Linked DNA regions of Homo sapiens: regions 2, 3, 4 and 5 are each linked to region 1. Evidence: fine-mapped expression QTL. A gene starts in region 1. Each other region holds a variant in brackets. All regions are shown on one strand. Distances are between the middles of the regions. Region 1 holds the start of ISL2 (ISL LIM homeobox 2). Region 2 overlaps SCAPER (S-phase cyclin A associated protein in the ER). Region 3 overlaps SCAPER (S-phase cyclin A associated protein in the ER). Region 4 overlaps SCAPER (S-phase cyclin A associated protein in the ER). Region 5 holds the start of LOC101929439 (a long non-coding RNA gene).

Evidence for each region.
Region 2: its variant is fine-mapped to the expression of ISL2 in whole blood (TOPMed, PIP above 0.99).
Region 3: its variant is fine-mapped to the expression of ISL2 in whole blood (TOPMed, PIP 0.94).
Region 4: its variant is fine-mapped to the expression of ISL2 in whole blood (TOPMed, PIP above 0.99).
Region 5: its variant is fine-mapped to the expression of ISL2 in whole blood (INTERVAL, PIP above 0.99).

The regions. Positions count from the first base shown.
Region 1 is chr15:76,335,141-76,339,260 of GRCh38, forward strand. ISL2 (ISL LIM homeobox 2) reads left to right here and starts at 1,633. Exons shown (of 6, transcript NM_145805.3): 1 at 1,633-1,801; 2 at 2,638-2,827; 3 at 3,112-3,374. The coding sequence starts at 1,744. RefSeq lists enhancers at 1,368-1,662, 1,474-1,973, 1,667-1,716, 2,142-2,953.
Region 2 is chr15:76,442,099-76,446,218 of GRCh38, forward strand. The region is part of intron 25 of SCAPER (S-phase cyclin A associated protein in the ER); the gene reads right to left. Among named protein-coding and RNA genes, the nearest start is that of ISL2, 110 kb to the left of the region's middle. The variant T/G (reference allele first, on the strand shown) is at 1,652.
Region 3 is chr15:76,817,445-76,821,564 of GRCh38, forward strand. The region is part of intron 5 of SCAPER (S-phase cyclin A associated protein in the ER); the gene reads right to left. Among named protein-coding and RNA genes, the nearest start is that of SCAPER, 86 kb to the right of the region's middle. The variant C/T (reference allele first, on the strand shown) is at 2,210.
Region 4 is chr15:76,719,650-76,723,769 of GRCh38, forward strand. All of the region lies in intron 17 of SCAPER (S-phase cyclin A associated protein in the ER), which reads right to left. Among named protein-coding and RNA genes, the nearest start is that of MIR3713, 140 kb to the left of the region's middle. The variant T/A (reference allele first, on the strand shown) is at 2,445.
Region 5 is chr15:76,177,774-76,181,893 of GRCh38, forward strand. The region is part of intron 8 of TMEM266 (transmembrane protein 266); the gene reads left to right. LOC101929439 (a long non-coding RNA gene) reads right to left here and starts at 3,713. Exons shown (of 3, transcript NR_120360.1): 1 at 3,179-3,713; 2 at 773-1,011. RefSeq lists enhancers at 3,804-3,853, 4,064-4,113. The variant A/G (reference allele first, on the strand shown) is at 1,852.

The DNA.
Region 1 (4,120 bases):
AAGCCGGACCGGTGAGAAGACTAGACCTCCTAAAGGTGGAGGCGGAGCTCAAAAGCCGGACGCTACTGGACGAGGCTTAAAGCGCTCGCCCCAGCGCGGGGCCGGTGAGGAACGTTCACCGTGGACCATGGTCGAATAATGTTAGCGTGCACTCGGGGCCTCGCCCTAGCCTTCTGCAAAGCCTCGGCCTGCGCCCTCGGCTGCATCCGTTTCGACGCCAACCAACCTCATGCTCTTAGTAGAACGGCAGTAGCGACCGCGCCCTCAGGCCCACAAGCCCGAAGGTCTGGGCAGGGTCTGGAATGGCGGTGGAGACACTTTATCCGCAGGCGTTTCACCTCGCGCCCCACCCAGGCGCACACCAAGTTCTTGGTACTCCTTTTAATGGGAAAACAAGAACAGACACCATGGTTGGATAAATGTTATTTATAATTCATGGGCCGGTCTTTGAACCCTTTCAAACAAAACCCACAGCGATTTCTTTGAAAGAATGCCTGGACTGTGCTCAGAGCTCTCAGATTTTCTCAGGACCAACGAGCCGCCGCCTCGCAGATACCACTGTAAATTACCCAGCGCCTTACGTTCGTTTCTGATTATTTGCATTGCAGTGGGTTTGTTAATGAAGGACAAGAGTTTAGAAAAATCTTTTATTTTGGAAGTTGGACACGCAATCGACCCCAGCAGTGTTCCTAAAAGGAGCTATGCCATTTGGATGGGGGAAAAATGAGGGGGCGGGGAAGTCCATGTTACATTTAAAACAACAACAGCAACAAATTAAAAGCAAAACAAAACAACAAAAAAAAGGAAGTGGAGCAGGAGGAGGAGGTGGTGGTGGAGGAGAGGGAGGAGGGGCAGCAGCAGCGGCAGCAGCAGCAAGGATGGAGTCAGGACCCGTCCCAGTCCCGGGTGAGCGCTTTTGGATCTGGGTTCTGGCTCAACCCACGTAATGCCCCAATCTAAAGTTTTCTACGTGTGTGTGGATAGGAAAGTCTAAATAGAGTTTATCAGAACCCAGGTGGTCATTCTCTACACTCTCTCTAGCTTGGACCCGAAGAACAAAGGCACATGAGAGGAGAAAGGTGACCAGCTGGACGATGACGGTCACGTCCAAACGGATCCCCCTTGTCCTCGGCTCTCTCGTCCTGAGAGTGGGTTTAATTTTTTTTTTTTTAATTTATATAAGAAGGGAGCTCTTAAAGGAGAGCCATCTCCACCCTCAGGTATCCATCACCCAGCTCCAGCGCGCCTGGGAAAACCGCCCCGAAAGTCCAAGAGGAAGCTCAGAGTTGTAACGGCCGCGGAGCCAGCTCGGCGGTGACGCAAGGTCCAGTCCAGATTGCCAGGCCCGGGGCATGAGAGAGGATCCTTGTAGGTTTCGGAGGTGGGGGGGCTGCACTCCATTGTTCACTCCGGGCCAATCAGGGTTGGCCCACTTCCTCCCAGCCAATCTCCCTTCACCCCCAGCCTCCAACCCAACCCACCCCGCCCATCAGCCCCTGGATCCCCATCACCTCCCCCGCATCCCCGGCAGTTCTGGGGAAGCTTCGTGACGCCACAGGTCCCGCCCCCAGCTCCGGCCCGGGGCTAGTGCGTGTTGACGTCATGCTGCGTGCGGGCCGGTGCGGAATCGCTCCTTCAACTCCGCGGGGCAGTAGGAGTTAGTTAGCAAAGAGCCGAGGCCGGGCGCGCGACCCTCGTCCTTCTGCCCCTGGCCGCACACTTTGCGCACATCTCTTTTTCTGCATGGTGGATATTATTTTTCATTATCCTTTTCTGGGTGCTATGGGTGATCATTCCAAGAGTAAGTATTTCTGTGTGTGTGTGGGGTGGGGTGTGTGTGTATGCTTAATATGCAAAATTTCTAATGCAGAAAAATGTTTAGTGGATTCTACAAGTGGCTTCTATTTGTCAGAATAGTTTAGGAGAGGAAAAACGAATGCATGTCTCCTGCAGGACTGCTTATCTTTGGGAATCCTGTTGTTTTATTTTATAAGTAAACACTATTTCTCAAGCCGGCTAGGATGACTTCGGGCTGCGAAATCTGCTTCTGTTTTGCGCAAAGGCAATTAGGTTTGATTTAGGGATGTGGGTTTTTTTTTTTTTGGTTGTTGTTTGTTTGCCTTTCGGTTTTTCAAAGCTAGGAAGCTTTCTTTCGCTTGCTCTGGGATATTTAAACTAAGAAATGTCTGAGAGGATGAGCGGGGACTGCCGAAAGACGATGTGTCTGTGTTGGGATAGGAGGCAGCCGCTGTGAGTGGGAGTGTGTGAGCGGAAATGCCAGGACAGCACCGTTAGGTGTTGATATCCAGGCGTCCGCAGTGCCTGTGTATTTACTCTCTTCTTAGTTTCGTGTTTGCGTTTAGTTTCAAGACACGTCGACAAAACGACTGTCATTAATGAATGTAATAACGAAATATTTGGGGTGGGGGACAGAAGAAACCTTCAGCAATCCACAAGATACTGGTTTTTCGTTTCCAATGCCCTGGACCTTTAGAGAGCTCATCATCTTTCCTTATGGTCGCAAGTCTTGAAAGAAAGAGCAAGAGAGCGAGCGGGTTGGGTTGGGGCTGGAGTAGCCGAGGCCGGCCTGGGTCCGGGCAGTCAGGCCTGACGCGGCCCCGCGCCCTTCCCCGGCAGAGAAGCCCGGGACGGCCATGTGCGTGGGCTGCGGGAGTCAGATCCACGACCAGTTTATCCTGCGGGTGTCGCCCGACCTCGAGTGGCACGCGGCCTGCCTCAAGTGTGCCGAGTGCAGCCAGTACCTGGACGAGACGTGCACGTGCTTCGTGAGAGACGGGAAGACCTACTGCAAGCGGGACTATGTCAGGTGAGGCCGGCGGGAACGCGGGCTGGGCCACCGCGCGCAGGGGCCGGGGCCGGGACTGGGGATGGCGGCCTGCCCGCGCGCCCCGGCCCTGCCCAGGGAGAAGGCCATCCGCATCCCGCACGGGTGCCGCAGCGCTCCCCCGGGCCCGGGAATGCCCGCAGGCGGGTCACCGCAGTCTCCTGGTGGCCACAAAGTGTCCTGGGCGCGCGCCGGAGCCGTAGCAGCCAGGGAGATGAGGGCGGCCGCAGGCCCAGCGCTGACACCGCCGCACCTTGGGCCCGCAGGCTGTTCGGCATCAAGTGCGCCAAGTGCCAGGTGGGCTTCAGCAGCAGCGACCTGGTGATGAGGGCGCGGGACAGCGTGTACCACATCGAGTGCTTCCGCTGCTCCGTGTGCAGCCGCCAGCTGCTGCCTGGGGACGAGTTCTCGCTGCGGGAGCACGAGCTGCTCTGCCGCGCCGACCACGGCCTCCTGCTCGAGCGCGCCGCGGCCGGCAGCCCGCGCAGCCCCGGCCCGCTTCCCGGCGCCCGCGGCCTGCATCTGCCCGGTAAGCGCGCCGGGGCCTGTGCCGGGGTGAGCGGGGTGTATGTGCGTGCGTGTGTGTAGGGGTACGCTTGTGTCCCTAACGAGAAGTTGTCAGTTGTGTGTGGTTCCGTCTGCCGGGATAGTGTTTTTCTGTATCAGTGCGGAACTGTGTGCTGGGAACAAGGCTGTGTGTATTCTCGTGTGCTCGGGAGAAACTGCGTGTGTATGAGTGTGTGAGCACGGAGAATTGTGCAGAATCGTGTTCTCCATGACCAGGAACATGCAGGGCACAGTGCTAGGAGCAGAAGAGTGGATGACAACAGGGAATCTTAAGTGGTGTCCGTCTTGGGGCTTGTATTAGGAATTTCTTGGAGGAATATGTGTTATTGTCAGAGGGTAAGGTTTGCCCAGGGGTATGTGTGTAAGTAACACAGCTCCAAACTGGGAGCTGGGCAGGAGCTTGGTCAGCCAGGAGCCAAGAACCCAACAAAGAGGGGTTTTTGCCATCTTGTTTTGAGGCCCAGTTTGATGAACAATTTAGCCAGGTTCTTCTGGGGGAGGGGGAGTATCAATGCATAGTGGACTGTCACTGGAATATTCTGGGTCCTAATCAGCAGCTGCCCAGAGATGGGGTCTGAGTGTATAATGGGCAGGTACGGCTGAACAGAAACAGAGGTGCCTCCACCCCAGGCAAGGCAGTTTCCCCCAGGTAGCCATAGGCCTGCAGCACAGATCCGTAGACCAGGCTGGGCCTCTGGGTGCTGTGTG
Region 2 (4,120 bases), 110 kb after region 1:
GGGCAAAGGTGTAAAGTGAATTAAAGGAAGAAAGGAATTTTGCACGCAAAATCCTTCTCTATGCAATATCCTACGTGTTCACCTCTTACTCCTGCTTCAGTTACTGTAGTCTATGAGGTACATCTTTTCTTTTCCCCACCCCCCAAAATAAGTTATGTGCCTCACTGTAATTCCCAAACACCTTGTACATGCTGTGCTTTACTGCAGCACTCATTATACTACATTTTAAATGTCTCTTACTGGTTTGTCCTACTAAACTGTGAGTTACAATTTGTCTCTGTAGTTCCAGTGCCTAAATATTTGTCCAATGAAAGAATGGGTAGGTTTTAGAGGCATTTACATAGCAACTTTGGTGTGTTGGGAGCACTGTCCTGGGAGGCCTGAGTCTCTCTCATTCTATCTCACCTGCTGCTACCAGCATGACTTGTGAGTATCCAGTTCCTTATGTATAAAATGAGGACATTCAGCTTTAATTAATATTTACTGAGAGTCCACTGTAAGATGGCAAGCTAGGTCCCCTTATACATATTTATCCATTAAATGTTTATAGCTACCCTCCAGTATATCTATTATTATGCCTATTATGCAAATGAGAAAACAGAGGCTCAGAAAGGTTAAGCAACTTACACAAGATCTTGAAGTCAGCAAATAATGTAGCAGCTTCTCAAATTCAAAACATCTGACTCCATGTTAGGTGATATACCCTAACACCATTATATCTTTCCTAGTATAAGGATGGACTCAATCTCTGAGACCTCTTTTAAGTCTCAGATTCTGTAGGTCTTTATTTATGAGTATGAAGTTATTCAAGTAATCTCATCTATCTGGAATACAGGCAAAAACCAGGAAATAATTTAAAAAACCAGTGAAAAAGGTGGTGGGGGCATGTGTATTGATGCAAATGAGAAGACAGATAAACAGCGAAAGTTGGGGTAAAAAACACCACCACTGAGGGAATCACCTTCTAAAAATAATGATAGATGGTGGACCTTGATGAATGGAGAAAATCAGAGACTCCCAGAGTTGGAAAGCCTAAAGTTGATTATCTAGTTCATCCTCCCAAACAGTGCAGGGGCTCCTTAATATAAGAGGTCTTCAAAATGTTTGTGAAAAATGTGTATTTTGAAAAAACTATGCATGGATTTCAATTATTTTTGCACCAAAATAAACTTACACCAACTTGTTATAACATGTCTGAAGAGGCTCTAGTTGGAAGCACAAAGAAAGATAAGACATCCATTTGAAAAGATCCCCTTTAAGAGCAAGACGAATTCTGCTAACATTGAAGCAAGAACAAACATCAAATTTATGGTGAAGCTTGGGTGGAAGAATTGTGAAATCACTGGTGTTTTACAAAAAGTTTATGGGGACAATGGCCCAAGGAAATCAGCAGTTTACAAATGGATAACTTGTTTTAAGAAGGGACAACATGATGTTGAAGATGAAGCCTGCACCAGCAGACCATCTACATCAATTTACAAGGAAAGAATTCATTTTGTGCTCTAATTGAAGGTGACTGATGATTAATAGCAGAAACAACAGCTAACACCACAGACTTCTCAACTGGTAGCTTATACAATTCTGACTGAAAAATTAAAGTTGTGCAAACTTTCCACTTGATGAGTGCCGAAACCATTGTGTCCAGCTCAGC[T/G]GCAGACAAGAGCACAGCTTTCAATGGAAATTTTAAACAAGGGGGATTAAGATCCTGAAGCACTTCTTGGAAGAACTGCAATAGGACATGGCTTTACCAGTATGATTCTGAAGACAAAGCACAATCAAAGCAATGGCTACCAAGAGGTGGAAATAGCCCAGTCAAAGCAAATGCGGACCAGTCAAGAGCAAAGATCATGGCAACATTTTGGGATGCTCAAGGCATTTTGCTTTTTGACTTTCTGGAGGGTGAAAGAATGATAACATCTGCTCATTATGAGTGCGTTTTGAGAAGGTTAGCCAGAGCATGAGCAGAGTAACACCTGGGAAAGCTTCACCAGAGGGTCCTTTTCCACCACAGCAATACTCCTGCTTATTCTCATCAAATGTAGGCAACTTTTCAAGAGTTTTGATGGGAAATCATTGGGCATCCACCTTTCAGTCCTGATTTGTCTCCTTCTGACTTCTTGTTTCCTAATCTTAAAAAATCTGTAAAGGGCCCCATTTTTCTTCAGTTAATAATGTAAAAAAGATTGCACTGACATGGTTAAATTCCCAGGACCCTTAGTTTTTTAGGGATGAATTAGGTGGCTGGTAGTACCACTTATAAAAGTGTCTTGAACTTGATGGAACTTAAGTTAAAAAAATAAAGTTCACATTTTTTATGTTCATTATGTAATTCAGTTTTTCCACAAGTTTTCCCTCTCTCCTCACTGCTGTAAACTAATCTTTCCCATTTTTAAATAAAATTTTGTTATTTCAGAACCATTTATGTTTAATCTAATTACCTATGTGTTAGGGCTTAAGTCCAACAATTTACCTTTTGTTTATTCTGTTTGTGGTCTGCTCTGCTTCTTGAACCCACACATTTACATCTTTTGCCAAATTTGGGACCATTTCAGCTACTATTTCTTCAAATACTTTTTCATCCCTGTCTTTTTTCTACTTCCATGAATCTGATGACATGAATGTTAGATCCCATGAGTCTGGTGACATGAATGTTAGATTTCTTGTTATGGCTCCATCAGTCCTTAGGTTCTGGTCACTTAAAACATTTTGGTCTGTTTTCTCTGTTGTTCTTCAGATTGGGTAATTTTGATCATTCTAACTTCAAATTCATTGATTCTTTCATCCTTTCTCCCCATTCAGTCATTGGAGCACATTCATTGACTTTTAAAATTTTGGATTATTATAGTTTTCAATTATAGCATTTCACTTGGTTATTCTTTATATCTTCTATTTTATTTCAATAGCTTTAGGGATCAAAGTGGTTTCTGGTCACATGGATGAACTGTATAGTGGTGAAGTCTGGGATTTTTGTGCACCTGTCACCCGAATAGTGTACACTGTACCCATTTCATCCTTTACCCTATTCTCACCTTTTCTCCTCCTGAGTCTCCATTGTTCATTATACCACTCTGTATGCCTTTGCATACCCATAGCTTAGTTTCCACTTGTAAGTGAGAAAATATATCTTCTATTTCTTTGCCGAGACTACTTTTTCATTTGCTTTAAGCATATTTGTAATTGCATGTTGAAGCATTTTTATGGTGGCTGCTTTAAAATCCATGTAAGAATTGTAACATCTGTTGTCTTTTCTCATTCAGGTTGAGATTTTCCTGGTTCTTTCTATGATGAGTGATTTTTAAATTATATTCTGGAAACTTTGTGTATGATAAGACTGTATCTTATTGAAATCTTGTTTTAGAAGACCTCCTCTGACACTGTTCTGATGGGGGGCAGGGAGTGTCACCTCATTACTGTCAGCTGGGGGTGAAGGCTGCCTCATTATCAGGTGAGGGCAGGAATTCAGGCTTCTGAGTTAGCCACCTGGAGATGGCATGTTACTGATATCACCACCTGGAGATGGCATGTTACTTGGTTTCCACAGGAGGGGTTTCCACATGAGGGGATGGGATAGGGCTTGTTACCACAGGAAGCTGGTGAGTCCTGGCATCTCACTTGGCCCCTTCTGGCACCATCCTGGTGACTGGGGAAGGAGAATCTCACTATCTCTCAGTAGGGGTAAAAAATCAGGCTTCCAATACAGTCTCCATGCACCCCGGGTGGAGGTGCATCATTACTGCTGGATGAGGATTAAAATCTCGATTTCCCACTCAGCCTTCTCTAACACCACCAAGGGATGGCGAGAGGGGCGTTGCATGAGTGCTTAACCCTTTCTTAAGACCTCTGATTCTTCCAGAGGTAATATCCACTCTTACTGCACAGGGAATTTTCTTGTAGAAATAGTGGTAGAAGGGGCAGTAGTGATAATAGTAATAGCAGCTAACATTTAGTGGGCACTTAATGTGAGGTTCCATGATAACAGCTCATCTGGATCATTTCACTTAATCGACACAACACTCTCACAAATCATAAATATTGTTATTCCTATATTCAGACAAGAAAACTAGGGTTCAGAGAGGTTAAATCACATCAGGGTCAGGATTTCAATCCAGGCTGTCTCACT
Region 3 (4,120 bases), 480 kb after region 1:
TTAAAGGATACAAACTTCTAATTACGTAGGATGAACAGGTCTACAAATCTAATATACAGCATGAGGGCACTAGTTAATGATAACGTATTGTATACTAAAAATTCACTAAAAGAGTAGTTTTGTTACTCTTACCACACACACAAAAAGGTAACTATGTGAGGTGATAGGTTCATTTGCTAGACTGCAGTAATCATTTCACTACATATATGTATGTCAAAACATGTTATAAATCTCAAATATATATAACAAATATATATGTAAATAAACAGAATACCATTTACATTAACACCCCAAAATATGAAATACTTAGGTATAAAACTAACAAAATATGTATAAGATCTATATTAGGAAAACAACAAAACTCTGATAAAAAAAATTAGAAAACTAAGTAAATGGAAAGATAATCCATGGATAGGATGACTCAATATTGTCAAAATGTCAATCAGTTCTTTCAAACCTGATTTATAAATTCAATGCAATCTCAATCAAAATCCCAGCAAGTTAAGCTGATTCTAAAGTTTACAGCAGAAGCAAAAGACTCAGTAGAGCCAATACAATTTTGAAGAACAAAGCTGGTGGACTAACACTACCCAATGTCAAGAAATACTAAAAAGCTATAGTAATCAAGACAGGGTGGTACTAGGATAAAAGACCAACAGGTCAATGGAACAGAACAAAGAGCTCAGAAACAGACCCACATAAATATAATCAACTGATCTTTGACTAACGTACAAAGCCAATACAAGGGAACAAAGATTGTTTTTCAACACATGATGCTAGAATAAATGGGACATCACATGCAAAAACTAATGAATCTAGACACAGAACTTATAATCTTCACAAAAATTAACTCAAATTGGATCCTAGACCCAACTGTAAAATACAAAACTATACAACTCCTAAAGTATAACTTGCAGGGAAAAAACCTAGATGGTCTTGGATGCAACAATGAATTGTTAGATACAACACCAAAGGCACAGTCCATGAATGAAAAAATTGATAAGCTGGACCTCATTAAAATCAAAAACTTCTGCTCTGCAAAAAACAATATTGAGAGAATAAGACAAGCCACAGACAGGGAGAAAATATTTGCAAAAGACATACAAGAGACACTGTTATCCAAAACATACAAAAAACTCTTAAAACTCAACAATAAGGGGGGTGGAGCCAAGATGGCCAAATAGGAACAGCTCCAGTCTACAGCTCCCAGCGTGAGCGACGCAGAAGATGGGTGATTTCTGCATTTCCAACTGAGGTACCAGGTTCATCTCACTGGGGAGTGCCAGACAGTGGGTGCAGGACAGTGGGTGCAGCGCACCGTGCGTGAGCCAAAGCAGGGCAAGGCATTGCCTCACCAGGGAAGCCCAAGGGGTCAGGGAATTCCCTTTCCTAGTCAAAGAAAGGGGTGACAGACGGCACCTGGAAAATCGGGTCATCCCACGCTAATACTGTGCTTTTCCAACAGGCTTAACAAACGGCACACCAGGAGATTATATCCCGCACATGGCTCGGAGGGTCCTACGCCCACGGAGCCTCCCTCATTGCTAGCACAGCAGTCGGAGATCAAACTGCAAGGCGGCAGCGAGGCAGGGGGAGGAGCACCCACCATTGCCAAGACTTGAGTAGGTAAACAAAGCGGCCAGGAAGCTCGAACTGGGTGGAGCCCACCACTGCTCAAGGAGGCCTGCCTGCCTCTGTGGGCTCCACATCTGGGGGCAGGGCACAGACAAACAAAAAGCAGCAGTAGCCTCTGCAGACTTTAATGTCCCTCTCTGACAGCTTTGAAGACAGTAGTGGTTCTCCCAGCATGCAGCTTGAGATCTGAGAACAGGCAGACTGCCTCCTCAAGTGGGTCCCTGATCCCCAAGTAGCCTAACTGGGAGCCACCCCCCAGTAGGGGCAGACTGACACCTCACATGGCTGGGTACTCCTCTGAGACAAAACTTCCAGAGGAACGATCAGGCAGCAGCATTTGCAGTTCACCAATATCCTCTGTTCTGCAGCCACTGCTGCTGATACCCAGGCAAACAGGGTCTGGAATGGACCTCCAGCAAACTCCAACAGACCTGCAGCTGAGGGTCCTGAATGTTAGAAGGAAAACTAACAAACAGAAAGGACATCCACATCAAAAACCCATCTGTACGTCATCATCATCAAAGACCAAAGGTAGATAAACCACAAAGATAGGGAAAAAACAGAGTAGAAAAAC[C/T]GGAAACTCTAAAAATCAGAGCGCCTCTCCTCCTCCAAAGGAACGCAGCTCCTCACCAGCACAGAACAAAGCTGGACGGAGAATGACTTTGACCAGTTGAGAGAGGAAGGCTTTTGCACAGCAAAAGAAACCACCATCAGAGTGAACAGGCAACCTACAAAATGGGAGAAAATTTTTGCAAGCTACTCATCTGACAAAGAGCTAATATCCAGAATCTACAATGAACCCAAACAAATTTACAAGAAAAAAACAACCCCATCAAAAAGTGGGCAAAGGATATGAGCAGACATTTCTCAAAAGAAGACATTTATGCAGCCAAAAGACACATGAAAAAATGCTCATCATCACTGGACATCAGAGAAATGCAAATCAAAACCACAATGAGATACCATCTCACACCAGTTTGAATGGTGATCATTAAAAAGTCAGGAAACAACAGGTGCTGGAGAGGATGTGGAGAAATAGGAACACTTTTACACTGTTGGTGGGACGGTAAACTAGTTCAACCATTGTGGAAGTCGGTGTGGCGATTCCTCAGGGATCTAGAACTAGAAATACCATTTGACCCAGCCATCCCATTACTGGGTATATACCCAAAGGACTATAAATCATGCTGCTATAAAGACACATGCACATGTATGTTTATTGCGGCACTATTCACAATAGCAAAGACTTGGAACCAACCCAAATGTCCAACAAGGATAGACTGGATTAAGAAAATGTGGCACATATACACCATGGAATACTATGCAGCCACAAAAAATGATGAGTTCATATCCTTTGTAGGGACATGGATGAAGCTGGAAACCATCATTCTCAGCAAACTATCGCAAGGACAAAAAACCAAACACCACGTGTTCTCACTCATAGGTGGGAATTGAACAATGAGAACATAAGGACACAGGAAGGGGAACATCACACACTGGGGACTGTTGTGGGTTGGGGGGAGGGGGGAGGGATAGCATCAGGAGATACACCTAATGCTAAATGACAAGTTAATGGGTGCAGCACACCAACATGGCACATGTATACATATGTAACAAACCTGCACGTTGTGCACATGTACCCTAAAACTTAAAGTATAATAATAATAAAATTTTTTAAAAAAGAAAAAAAAAACTCAACAATAAGAAAAATAATTTGATTAAATAATAAGCCAAAGTCCTTAACAGACACTTCACCAAAGAAGATATACAAATGGAAAATAAACATATGAAAACATGCTCCACATCATAAGTCATCAGGGAAATGCAGATTAAAGTAACAATGAGATATTATTACACTCCTATTAGAATGACCAAAATCCAGAAAACTGACAACAGCAAATGCTGATGAGGATGTAGAGCAATGGGAACACTCATTTATTGCTAGTGGGAATGCATAATGGTACAGCTACTTTGGAAGACAGTGTGGCAGTTTCTTACAAAACTAAACGTTCTCTTACCATGTGATCCAGCAACTGCACTCCTAGTAAATACCCAAAGCCATTTAAAAACTTACATCCACACAAAAAGCTGCACACAGCTGTGTATAGCAGCTTTATTCATAATTGACAAAACTTGGAAGCCACCAAGACGTTCTTCAGTACATGAATGAATAAACAAACTGTGGTACATCCAGAAAATGAAATATTGCTCACGGCTAAGAAGAATGATCTATCAAAGTATTTTAAAATATGGCAGGGGCCAAGTAAGGTGGCTCACGCCTATAATCCCAGCACTTTGGGAGGCCAGGGCCGAGAAATCACTTGAGCGCAGGAGTTGGAGACAAGCCTGAGGAACATGGCAAAACTCCATCTCTACAAAAAAAATACAGAAAATTAGCCAGGCATAGTGGTGCGTGCCTGTAGTCCCAGCTACTAGAGAGGCTGAGGTTGGGGGGGATCACTTGAGCCTGGGAAGTTGAGGCTGC
Region 4 (4,120 bases), 380 kb after region 1:
TTATGATGTATACCTTAAATAAACAACAAATAAAAACTATTTTTTAAAAAACCTAAGGCAGATATCTTTAATAGTTAATTGTGGAACCCATTCCTTATAAATAAGATGCCCACTAACGAAACAAAAGGCATAAAGATGAGGAAAAAAATCCCAACTATATATTGGTAGATTATATGTTTATTTACGTAGAAAACGCTAAAAAAAATCTAAGATTAATTATTAGAATGCTTAACAGAATTTATTGTGGTTGCTGAAACAAAATAAATGGTATTTCTTTTTTTTTTTAATTATTATTACACTTTAAGTTTTAGGGTACATGTGCACAACGTGCAGGTTTGTTACATATGTATACATGTGCCATGTTGGTGTGCTGCACCCATTAACTCATCATTTAGCATTAGGTATATCTCCTAATGCTATACTTCCCCCCTCCCCCCACCCCACAACAGTCCCCAGTGTGTGATGTTCCCCTTCCTGTGTCCATGCGTTCTCATTATTCAATTCCCACCTATGAGTGAGAACATGTGGTGTTCGGTTTTTTGTCCTTGCGATAGTTTGCTGAGAATGATGGTTTACAGCTTCATTCTGTCCCTACAAAGGACATGAACTCATCATTTTTTATGGCTGCATAGTATTCCATGGTGTATATGTGCCACATTTTCTTAATCCAGTCTATCATTGTTGGACATTTGGGTTGGTTCCAAGTCTTTGCTATTGTGGATAGTGCCACAATAAACATACATGTGAATGTGTCTTTATAGCAGCATGATTTATAATCCTTTGGGTATATACCCAGTAATGGGACGACTGGGTCAAATGGTATTTCTAGTTCTAGATCCCTGAGGAATCACCACACTGACTTCCACAATGGTTGAACTAGTTTACAGTCCCACCAACAGTGTAAAAGTGTTCCTATTTCTCCACATCCTCTCCAGCACCTGCTGTTTCCTGACTTTTTAATGATCGCCATTCTAACTGGTGTGAGATGGTATCTCATTGTGGTTTTGATTTGCATTTCTCTGATGGAGAGTGATGATGAGCACTTTTTCATGTGGTTCTTGGCTGCATAAATGTCTTCTTTTGAGAAGTGTCTGTTCATATCCTTTGCCCACTTTTTGATGGGGTTGTTTTTTTCCTGTAAATTTGTTTGAGTTCATTGTAGATTCTGGATATTAGCCCTTTGTCAGATGAGTAGGTTGCAAAAATTTTCTCCCATTCTGTAGGTTGCCTGTTCACTCTGATGGTGGTTTCTTTTGCTGTGCAGAAGGTCTTTAGTTTAATTAGATCCCATTTGTCAATTTTGGCTTTTGTTGCCATTGCTTTTGGTGTTTTAGACATGAAGTCCTTGCCCATGCCTATGTCCTGAATGGTAATGCCTAGGTTTTCTTCTAGGGTTTTTATGGTTTTAGGTCTAACCTTTAAGTCTTTAATCCATCTTGAATTAATTTTTGTATAAGGTGTAAGGAAGGGATCCAGTTTCAGCTTTCTACATATGGCTAGCCAGTTTGCCCAGCACCTTTTATTAAATAGGGAATCCTTTCCCCATTGCTTCTTTTTCTCAGGTTTGTCAAAGATCAGGTAGTTGTAGATATGCGGCATTATTTCTGAGGGCTCTGTTCTGTTCCATTGGTCTATAACTCTGTTTTGGTACCAGTACCATGCTGTTTTGGTTACTGTAGCCTTGTAGTATAGTTTGAAGTCAGGTAGTGTGATGCCTCCAGCTTTGTTCTTTTGGCTTAGGATTGACTTGGCGATGCGGGCTCTTTTTTGGTTCCATATGAACTTTAAAGTAGTTTTTTCCAATTCTGTGAAGAAAGTCATTGGCAGCTTGATGGGGATGGCATTGAATCTATAAATTACCTTGGGCAGTATGGCCATTTTCACGATATTGATTCTTCCTACCCATGAGCATGGAATGTTCTTCCATTTGTTTGTGTCCTCTTTTATTTCATTGAGCAGTGGTTTGTAGTTCTCCTTGAAGAGGTCCTTCACGTCCCTTGTAAGGTGGATTCCTAGGTATTTTATTCTCTTTGAAGCAATTGTGAATGGGAGTTCACTCATGATTTGGCTCTCTGTTTGTCTGTTATTGGTGTATAAGAATGCTTGTGATTTTTGTACACTGATTTTGTATCCTGAGACTTTGCTGAAGTTGCTTATCAGCTTAAGGAGATTTTGGGCTGAGACGATGGGGTTTTCTAGATATACAATCATGTCATCGGCAAACAGGGACAATTTGACTTCCCCTTTTCCTAATTGAATGCCCTTTATTTCCTTCTCCTGTCTGACTGCCCTGGCCAGAACTTCCAACACTATGTTGAATAGGAGTGGTGAGAGAGGGCATCCCTGTCTTGTGCCAGTTTTCAAAGGGAATGCTTCCGGTTTTTGTCCATTCACTATGATTTTGGCTGTGGGTTTTCAATAGATAGCTCTTATTATTTTGAGAT[T/A]TGTCCCATCAATACCTAATTTATTGAGAATTTTTAGCATGAAGGGTTGTTGAATTTTGTCAAAGGCCTTTTCTGCATCTATTGAGATAATCATGTGGTTTTTGTCTTTGGTTCTGTTTATATGCTGGATTACGTTTATTGATTTGCGTATGTTGAACCAGCCTTGCATCCCAGGGATGAAGCCCACTTGATCATGGTGGATAAGCTTTTCGATGTGTTGCTGGATTCGGTTTGCCAGTATTTTATTGAGGATTTTTGCATCAATGTTCATCAAGGATATTGGTCTAAAATTCTCTTTTTTGGTTGTGTCTCTCCTAGGCTTTGGTATCAGGATGATGCTGGCCTCATAAAATGAGTTAGAGAGGATTCCCTCTTTTTCTATTGATTGCAATAGTTTCAGAAGGAATGGTACCAGCTCCTCCTTGTACCTCTGGTAGAATTCGGCTGTGAATCCGTCTGGTCCTGGACTTTCTTTGGTTGGTAAGCTATTAATTATTGCCTCAATTTCAGAGCCTGTTATTGGTCTATTCAGAGATTCAACTTCTTCCTGGTTAAGTCTTGGGAGGGTGTATGTGTCAAGGAATTTATCCATTTCTTCTAGATTTTCTAGTTTATTTGCATAGAGGTGTTTATAGTATTCTCTGATGGTAGTTTGTATTTCTGTGGGATCGGTGGTGATATCTCCTTTGTCATTTTTTATTATGCCTATTTGATTCTTCTCTCTTTTCTTCTTTATTAGTCTTGCTAGCAGTCTATCGATTTTGCTGATCTTTTAAAAAAACAGGCTCCTGGATTCATTGATTTTTTGAAGGGTTTTTTTGTGTCTCTATTTCCTTCAGTTCTGCTCTGATCTTAGTTATTTCTTGCCTTCTGCTAGCTTTTGAATGTGTTTGCTCTTGCTTCTCTGGTTCTTTTAATTGTGATGTTAGGGTGTCAATTTTAGATCTTTCCTGCTTTCTCTTGTGGGTATTTAGGGCTATAAATTTCCCTCTACACACTGCTTTGAATGTGTCCCAGAGATTTTGGTATGTTGTGTCTTTGTTCTCGTTGGTTTCAAAGAACATCTTTATTTCTGCCTTCATTTCATTATTTACCCAGTAGTCATTCAGGAGCCGGTTGTTCAGTTTCCATGAAGTTTAGCAGTTTTGAGTGAGTTTCTTAATCCTGAGTTCTAGTTTGATTGCACTGTGGTCTGAGAGACAGTTTGTTATAATTTCTCTTCTTTTACATTTGCTGAGGAGTGTTTTACTTCCAACTATGTGGTCAATTTTGGAATAGGTGTGGTGTGGTGTGCTGAAAAGAATGTATATTGTGTTGATTTGGGGTGGAGAGTTCTGTAGATGTCTATTAGGTCTGCTTGGTGCAGAGCTGAGTTCAATTCCTGGATATCCTTGTTAACTTTCTGTCTCATTGATCTGTCTAATGTTGACAGTGGGGTGTTAAAGTCTCCCATTATTATTGTGTGGAAGTCTAAGTCTCTTTGTAGGTCTCTAAGGACTTGCTTTATGAATCTGGGTGCTCCTGTATTGGGTGCATGTATATTTAGGATAGTTAGTTCTTGTTGAATTGATCCCTTTACCATTATGTAATGGCCTTGTCTCTTTTGATCTTTGTTGGTTTAAAGTCTGTTTTATCAGAGACTAGGATTGCAACCCCTGCCTTTTATTGTTTTCCAT
Region 5 (4,120 bases), 160 kb before region 1:
CTGGGCTTGTGCCGGGCATGTGGATGCCGCCTAGGACAGGGTGTGACCCTCGTCCTCACGGGGCTCTGGGTGACTCAGGGGGTTTGGCAGCCCATAAATAGGCAGTGGAAATCTGGTGCAATGCCTGTATCACATGGGCACGTCCCGGGCTCTGCAGGCCAGGATGGGGAAGGCTTTCCAGAGGAGCTGATGTGGAGCAGAGCCCTGGGGAGAAGGCTGCCAGGCAGAGGGAACAGTGTGGGGTGTGCGAGTGGGTGCAGTGCCCCCGGGGTTCGGGGCCATTTAGAGGGTGAGCAGAGGGAGGCAGTAGGATTGGGGACAGGCTTGGGAAGGGGCTCTGTGGCTGACCAGAGAGTTTGGGCTTTATCCTGCTGGGACAGAGGAAGCCTGGAGGATTAAAAGCAGGACTGGGGGATCTGCTCAGATGTGAGTTGTTGATGGAGCCTTCTGGCTGCCGTTGGAGGCTGGATGGAGAGGGCAGGGTGGAGACAGGAAGACTGGGGACAGAGGCTGGAGAAGAAGGTGAGAGAAGCTGGGCTTTAGGCAGAGGGGGCTGCAGGGAAGTGGGGAAAGTAAAGTGCAGGGTGTCATCCAGAAAGCGACTGGAAGCCGATCAGGCAGTTCTCATTCTGCTGTTGAACAGGAAAACAAATGCTCTACTTCACTGCAGTTGGCAACGTGAAAGACACGGACACAGGGCTGCATCCGCCCCTCATAAATTCGCAGCCTCCCAGCCCAGCAGGGAACGCGCTGACCCTGCCGCACACCTCACCTCAGCCACACATGCGCCACGTGGCCAGGAGAAAATCCTAACGGCAACCCCACCTCCCAGGGTTTCCACCATGACCTCTGTCCGGAGCCCCCCGGGGACCCCAGGTTCCTGCCGTCCTGGTTCAAGTCACCTCCACATGTGGCCTCCTTCCCGGGGGTCTCAGCCGGAGGGAGACTCCCTTGCATTCTGCACAGGAAAGAGCCAATAAATAAAGACAGATTCCCTCTAGGTAGCGACATCTGGAAAAGAGATGAACAGAAACGAACCATTTTAATTTAAAAAACACCTGAAGCCTGTCATCTTAGTTAAGACAGCAGAAAGGGCCAGACAGGCTGGACTCCCAGTGGGGCCACCGGGGAGGGTGGGGGCTGCCTGGCCAGAGGGACCAGGAGGGCAGCTCTCCTGGAGTCTGTGGTGCCCACTCCACAGAGCGAAGCAGACAGATGCCTCACTTGCAGCTGTATTTTCAGACCTGGTTTGAGACTTGACTGGGTAACAGATACCCTGGAGGAAATGAGACTGTGGGCCCTGGAATGTCAGAGATGGCTAGACCCTTGGAGACAGCAGCCCATGGAATGGTTGAGAATAGACTTGGTTCTAAATAGACTTTGAGCTGGCTTCGAACCCAGGTGTGTCTCTCTTTAGAACACTTACTGGCCTTGTGGCTTTGGGCATTAATGGGACATCTATGGGCCTTGGTTTTCCTAATCTGAAAAATGGGTGTAGTAATAGAATCCTCGAAGGATGGTGATGAGATCGTAGCCTAAAGCCTGACACATGATGGGTAGCAACTAATGGGTGTGGACCCCGAAGTCCACCAGCCCCACCACACCTGCCCCACACACCCATTTTACAAATAAGAAAACTGAGCAGTGGCAGCTCGCCTTGGGGGCACACAGCTAGTCCAGGGGGGCATAGAACCAGGTGTCCTAACTGTGAACACTGTTCTTTTCCAGCCCATCACGTTGAGCCTCCTTTTTCCTACTCATGGCACTTAGCACTCAGCAAAAACATTGATCAGATTATGCATGGGGTATTTTATACTGCAGGCACAGACCTGGCTCCCCTCAGCTGTCTCA[A/G]TGGCAGCCCCCAACCCCGTTCCAGGACAGTCTAGTATTCCTTGTGACAAACTCTTGCTGTCTCCTTGCTGGAATTCTCAGAGTATAATGAAGACATTTCCAAACTGAATTCACATATGCTGCCTGAAAAATTGACATTTACCAATGAAATGTGTTAGGGTCCCAGTTTAAATACAACACCTGGCCTGGCGCGATGGCTCACACCTGTAATCCCAGTGCTCTGGAAGGCTGAGGCAGGAGGACTGCTTGAGGCCAGAAGTTTGAGGCTGCAGTGAGCTGTAATGACACCACTGCACTCCAGCCTGGGCCACAGAGCAAGACTGTCTCTAAAACAAAACAAAACAAAACAAAACAAAACGCTTTTCACTCCCTTGCTCTCTTGCTGGGGTGTGTTTGTACAACTATTTCAACTATTTGCCACAACTTCACCCAGCTCTTTTTAAAAAAATAAACTTTATTTTTTAGAACAGTTTTATATTGACCAAAAAATAGTGAAGCAGGTGCAGAGTTCCCTGTATCCCTTGTGCCTGGCTGCCCATCATTAACATCATACACTAGTATCATTTGTTACAATGAACAAACCCACATTGATACGGTACTCAGGTTTTCTTAGTATTTAATCTGTTATGTCCTCTGTTTGCTCCACGTCGCATTCAGTAGGCTTAGGCTCCTCCTGGCTGTGGCAATTTCTCAGACTTTGTTTCTGATGACCTGAAGGGTTTTGGGGAGCACTGGTCGGGTGTTTTTGTTTTACAGGATGCCCCTCTGTTGGGATTCGTCTGATGTTTTTCCCAGGGTAAGCCTGGGGTTGTGGGTTTTGGGAGGAAGACTGCAGAAGGAAAGTGCCATTCTTATTGTCTCACATCAAGAGGACACACTGGCCACGTGACTTCTCACTGTGATGCGGCCTGGATCACCCGGCTGGGGCAGCGTGGGTCAGGTGTCTCCACTGCACAGTTACTCTCTGTTTCTTCATCTTAAGCTTTTTTTTTTTTTTTTTTTTTTTTGGAACAGAGTCTCACTCTGTCACCCAGGCTGGAGTGTAGTGGCGCCATCTTGGCTCACTGCAACCTCCACCTCCTGGGTTCAAGAGATTCTCCTGCCTCAGCTTCCCGGGTAGCTGGGATTACAGGCACCTGCCACCATGCCCAGCTAATTTTTGTATTTTTAGTAGAGACGGGGTTTCACCATGTTGACCAGGCTGGTCTCAAACTCCTGACCTCAGGTGATCCACCCGCCTCACCCTCCCAAAGTGCTGTGATTACAGGCATGAGCCACCGCACCCAGCCCATCTTAACTTTTTAAGAAAGATTACATTGCTTCTTACCGTGACCCTGTGGAGACTCTCAGGTGAGCCTGTTGGCCAGTTTCTTGCATGAATATCTGATTCATTTCACCTTCTGTGCTACATGGCAGTTCATTTCTTGTCACAGGCCCACATGCAAGGTGCTCCAGAATCACCTTATATAACAGATGAAAGGTCCCTGGGGAGGGCAGCTGGCCCAATCCAGGATTTGGCAGATGGGGCATCTGAGGCTCAGAGAAAGGGAGAGGTGGGCCCAACGTGGCACAGCAGTTATGAGGCCAGGACGAAAACAGGTCTCTTGTTGCTCATTCCAGTGCCTTCCCTCCTGGATCACACTGGCCCTCTGGCTTTGACAGGGAAACAGGCTTCACTGCTTCCCTCATTCCTATGATCTCTTCTGGTTGTGGACACACCTCATGCTTAACAGATTCCTACTTGGGGAGGGGTGCCTAGAGGATCCCGGGAGGGGAGGAGGTCTCTCTGCTGGTCAGTCATACCATTCCAAAGCCCTGGCCATGCCTTCTGCAGTCCCTTCCAGACTCCCCGCTGCTGTGATAGAAGCACATGGCTTCTGACCCCTGAATTCAGCAATTCCTCAATTCCTTAGGTGGAAGTTCTTTTCCATTCTTTTTGTTTGTTTGTTTGTTTTTGGTGAGGGGTGGATCTTGGCCAGAATTTCATGACGAGTTAGGCTCGCTGGTACACAGATGGAGTCCAAAGTCACGATGCTAGAGGCTGCCCTTCAGAGAGACGGTGTGGATGCCTTGTCTCTCTCTCTGTCTTGGCTGCTTCAGAAACCAAAGCCATTTTAGATGCAGCAGTTAAATCAATGCAACGATATACTCTTCTGACTCATCTCACGAAACCACCTCTGAGGTTTTATGTACCTCCATGCGTGGGATCTCGCTCTAGTTCCGAAACACATTCTGAAGTCTCCGTTACACCCGCTCTTTCATGTTTAAG